Linked DNA regions of Homo sapiens: region 2 is linked to region 1. The links come from fine-mapping of genetic effects on gene expression. Tissue or cell type: skeletal muscle. Region 1 holds a variant in brackets; the other region holds the start of a gene. All regions are shown on one strand. Distances are between the middles of the regions.

Region 1 (2,773 bases):
TCTACTACTTTGACTGGCCATAGTTAAAGAGCTTAACTTGTTGAACCTCATTTTTCATACTGACAGACAGGGCTAATAACAACACATTCATTTCTAATATGATTGTTTTAAGTATTAAATAAGATAAGGCATGTTAGCACTTTGTCAAGCAGATAACAACACTCTGTAACTTTTAGGCATTATCAGTATTACCATTATTATTAGAGATATTATTGATTCCTAGTGTTTCAGGTTCCGTGTATACAACTGGGCCTATACTACTACATCGATCATCATTTAATAAGTCACTTGGGTTTTTTCATCATGTAAACACATATATTTATTTATCTATATCTACATATAGACTCCTAAAAAGCAATGAGCTCTTAAGATTCAATGACCTATGACAGGAGAAAAGATCAAATACCACAATGAGTTTCTTTTTCTTCATCACCCTACTGAATTTAAATCAAAGCTGTTCTTAGGATGCTTGTGTTCAATCTGAATTCATGGAGATTAATAGCAATGATCTTGTCAGTGAATGCCCCTCCTATTTGCATAGATATCTGAATGAAAGCTTTACGTCTCCCCAGTTTTTCTTCTACAGATTTAGATTTTGGAAATATATTACTAAATTCATTCATTTTAGAAAGTGGTCGTTCTACCAGATTGCTAGGAAATTTTCACTTCTCTTCAGATACAAGGGAAATGAACAGATGAGTTTTATTTTCCACAGCCTGTACAAGATGGTTTACTTTACTCAGACAACTTGCTAATGGAACGGTCTGGATATACTGAAATTACTTCCCAAACCAAGCAACTAAAGAAGTTGAAAGCTACCCAGAGGTATGTGTAGTTAACACATACAAAGGTACTTTAACTCACTTTGTTGTATGAGCAAGGACAATTTTAGTGAAGTTTCAGAGTGACAGGCTTCCTTTTCAATAAAGCCTAAGTATACAAAATCAGCTTTAGAGCTATGCAACTAAAAAGCGGACATGTTCTTGTATAGGAAAGGAATTGCAGATAGATATATTTCTTTAGCCAAATTAAAAGTCCACCATTAGTGAAAAAAGAAAATCACGTGCTAAACAAGAAAATGTAACAGCAGGCAAGTTAAGTTGGAGATCAAATTATGAGACTTAGTGTATCTCATTAGCACTGTGTTGCCAAATGATATTGAAACAGACATTTGTGACCTGATTCATTCATTCTTTGGCTTCATGTTCTTTTCCTACTCTACCTGAAATTGCTAATAACATAAAAGGGCTTCAATCACGTTAGTGCAGAGAAGCTAAAATCTAGCCTTCTACCAAAACCCAGGAATGAACTTAGCAAGTTGGTGTTTTATATATATTTTTTTCATAATGTTTTATATATATTTATATATAAATATATATGTTTTTCATAATATATTATATATATGTTTTCATAATGTTGCATAAATTATGACCATACCTAACATGATCCAAAGACTTTTATGTCATATGAATACTATCTTGTTATGCTCATTGAAATTGTAAGTTAAATCAAGAGATAACATATACCTGAAATGGCTTTTCAAGAACTTACTAGTCATACATAACAATTTTTTTTGCTCTTTTACTTTCTATACAAACTGGGCATACGAACTGTGTTTCAAGCAGAACACTGCAAATAATCTTAGAGGAGAGCTTTGAGGACTCCACGCTCCTTTCATGGCTGACTGTGGACAAGCTGTCCCCAGCTCTCAGGTCCTGTACACATGAGTTGAATTTAGACATACTTTGAACTTGATACTTTC[T/G]GAAATCTAACCAAGAGCATCTTGAGAAAGTGTTTTAACTGTGAGCTGTTATTGCCAGAAGTAGCTTAAAAATGTTTTCTAGTAAACCTTGCTCTACTTAACTGAAAGACTAACATGATTTGAAAAATAGATCCCCAAAATACTGTATTATTAGGAACCAAAACCGACTATTTCCTATATGCTGCATACAAAGCAATCACTTGACACAAAAAGACTATATTCCCACTTAACACAGAACCACACTGCTCTGTTGACATTTGCTTGTATCCTTTGATGGTGCTTTTAACGCTTCATTTAAGTGTCAAACTAGGTGACAAGCATTAAGCCCAGATAGACTATTTAGTCTCATCTTGTGACCCTAGAACATTTTCTACAATTGCTTACCTTCTATCCACTTTCCCCTCAAAATAATATGAATTAATTAAACAAAATAAACAGAATATTATTTTCCGGCTCTAAGCCATGGACAGCTGTGAACGCCACAGAGGTACTTCTCTCTTTGAATAAAGTCAGAAAGATATGCACAGTCATGCTGTTCAAAATATTATTTTATGTGTGGAATAACACTGTCATAAGACATTTGGAAGCCAAGTAAAATCACAGAAGTAAGAGGATTTGTAGCAGCCTGTTTTGGCTGAAGGGAAATGAGGCTGAGCTCTCCCATGAAGCAAGCAACATGACACCTTTCGGTGTTAGAAATAGCCTTTTGGATGGTTAAAAAAGAGAGAGGAAAAAGCAAAGCAGTGGAGATCAAAGCTATCTCCCTGTACACTACAGATCATCTTTTTTTCTTCCTCTTCTTCAACAGCAAGATTGAAGGAAGGGGCTGAAAGTGGAGGGAGAAGGGGAAAGGAAATCATGCTAATCAAGAATTGTAAAGAATGGAGGTAGCCTTTTGATCTCCACAGGATGGCAACTTTATTGGCTATGCATAAGCAGTTTCCAACCAGCTGATCAACCAGGTATTAAGGCTCAACCCTTCCATGATCAGTAACCATGAAGTGAGTTATC
Region 2 (2,773 bases), 760 kb after region 1:
CGAGGCAGGAGTGGGATGTCTTAGCATTCCGTCTCCCCCACCCCACCCATCTGCGTGGGACACAGTGACTCCTAGAAGGGTATCCCAGGATTTTAGCGGCCAGGTGTGAGCGCCCTCCACGCGGTCCTCCGAGACCTCAGGGCGCGTGGCAACTGGGCAGAAGCCGTCTCTGCAGCGCCGCTGCCCCGGGTGGAGCGGCAGCCCAGGCTGCAGCAGTGGGGTTGCCACGCCGAGTTTTCCGCATCGGCCGCCCGCAGGGCTCGCCTGCTTCTCCCCATTGTGTTCTCAGAGCTGTGGGACCCAGCCGCGCGCGCAGCCGCACCCGCGCCAACGCTGGAACCGAAGGCTCATGGAAGCGGGGCTGGCAAGATGGGGCAGGGAGAAGGAGCAAGAAGGGGCCCCAGAAGGGCACGGCGTTTCATCAATAATGCAGAGGCTCCTGGACCTCCCTGCAATACGTTTTCCAGCTAAACGCCACCAACTGGAGCGCTTCCTGGTTCGTCCCACTCGTGTGGTTTTTGTGTGTGAAAGATGGGACGCACCTTTTTCATTCATCTGTCTTCTCTCATTCTTCCTCCTTCCCTCCCTCATTTCCTCCCTCAAAGTCCCCGCTGGCTTAGCTTTAAGCTCTCGTCTTCACATCAGCACCATGTTTTCAAGCAAAATCCTGCAGGTTGGAAATGCAAGTGTCAAAAGTCCCCACTGCCTACATACCGCCAAGAGTTTACCAAAATCCACCTAGTAACGCTTATTTTCAAAGCCCCCACGCGCATCCATTCCTGGAGAATGCTTTCAAAGTTTGGAAGCTCCCTGCAGCCTGCCCGTGTCTATGCCTCAGTCAGCTCACATCACGAACAACGGTGCGGTCAGCGGCACTGAGATTAGGCTGCAAAGTTGCCCGGCCCCAGCCCACTACACCGCTGATGCTCGCCGCATCCCTAGAGCAAATTCCGCTGTGTGCCCCCAAGAAGCCAAAAGCGGCACGAAACCTACTCCAACAAGGGTTAGCCCAGCCACACACACAACAAACAAATTCCAAAACTTCTTTGTTAAGCAGCCGCAGCCTACCTGGAACGGACACTCTGCACAACTGGCAAGGAAGAAACAAACATCGCATCCCTGCAGGAAAACTTGTTGAATCCCTCCCGATCGCAAGGCTGCAATTTCCGATTTAGCCTGAAGGTTTTTGATTCTACCCCAAAACACCCTGGCGCATCAGCCACAATTTCTGGATAAACTGCAGAGTCCTCTCGGCAACCATTCTGCACTCCAACAACCACTAGTGTAAAACCCAGCGTGTCCCCTTTTACAAATCAAAAGCCAGCTGTCACTTCCCTTGCAACCATTTCCGAGACTTACCCTTCCATAAGACTGTTTTCAGCAATCTAGAGGCTCCGTAGTGCAGACGCAGCCCTGCAACTTTGCTGTGCACTGAGACCTTTCCGAGTTTAAACCAAGCGAAAGGTGACAGACTTTTAAACCTAAGAGTGGGGAAATAGGGAGAGAGTGAAGTCGGGTTTCTTCTCTGTATCAGCACCCTGGAAAAATTCAATCCTTCTTCAGTAGAGAATTCTTTCAAACCCGTTATCTGTATTACTATTAATGCGCAGAGCAGAAGGCATTGCATACAAATAGGTCCAAGTGTGCGCTTCTATTGGTGGCTGCGGAGGCCCCTGGGTCCTACTGCTCCGGTCTAAACTACACAGCAACACTAGGCACGCAGCTTTGGAGACGCCGAGGGGAAAATGGATTTAATTGATTCGTTACCTCTGGTATTGTAATGCCTGCTGCGATGTTTAACCGAGGGGGGAGGAAAAAAAAAAAAAAAAACCCTTACATTTAACTCCTGTCATGTGATCTATCATTCCATAGCTGCTTTTAATTGTCTGTGTGGAGTGGCTTTGATCATACAAAGGATTTTAAAAGAACATTTTCGAAGGAAAATTCACACAGACACTTTTGGCAGGAAAACCCTCTTTTGCTCTCTATTATGCATTATTCTCATATAAATCCAGGAAATTTTATATAATCAAATACTTCTGCACTTCACGTAGGTACACACAACACCCAATTGTATTTACAATTCATAGCTACTACAAATAAAATACCTTACATGGGTAGTAGATAGTAGAAGCTAAAATATGAGTCTACCAATTATAAAACACGGGTTATATTAGTCAAATGCTACAGAAAAAATTCCATCAATGACAATGGCGTCAGCATCATTTTTACTTCGCAAAATTAGAAATTCAAAAATATTTTCCTTGTAAATATTGACATAAAGATATAAATCAACATAAAGGTATTATAATGTCACAGTATGTCAAGCATTTACTATTAATTGCTACATTATCTTTTTACAGTTTCTCTCTTAGCAAGTTCATTAGTAATGCAAATTGGCATAACAAGGAGATTTAAAGTGAGGCCGACCTGTGGTGACTAGCAATTTGAAATATTGTAATAGTGTGCAAAATCACTTTAGTTCATCATCGGTAAAGCCAGTTATTTTAAGAATTAGAATATTAAATGCTGAATCTTAATATATATTAATTTGAAGTCTTAAACATGCTGTTTTCTTTGACCTTTAATTTTGTGGAGGAAAAGAGAAATCCTTATTTAAACTAAAATGACATAGACTTTCCACAAAATCCTAGATACGATATTTACTGATATTATAATTTAGGAAGTAACATAATTTTATTGTCTTTGATGTAAATAATTGTGATAAATTCCAATTTAATTACAAAATTATTACATATATGTAATGTACAAC

What was found. PIP is the estimated chance that this variant, and not a neighbour inherited with it, causes the effect.
Region 2: ROBO1 starts here. The variant in region 1 is fine-mapped to the expression of ROBO1 in skeletal muscle (GTEx, PIP above 0.99).

The regions. Positions count from the first base shown.
Region 1 is chr3:79,010,308-79,013,080 of GRCh38, forward strand. The region is part of intron 3 of ROBO1 (roundabout guidance receptor 1); the gene reads right to left. Among named protein-coding and RNA genes, the nearest start is that of MIR3923, 500 kb to the right of the region's middle. The variant T/G (reference allele first, on the strand shown) is at 1,763.
Region 2 is chr3:79,766,393-79,769,165 of GRCh38, forward strand. It overlaps ROBO1 (roundabout guidance receptor 1), which reads right to left and starts at 1,606. Exons shown (of 31, transcript NM_002941.4): 1 at 1,360-1,606.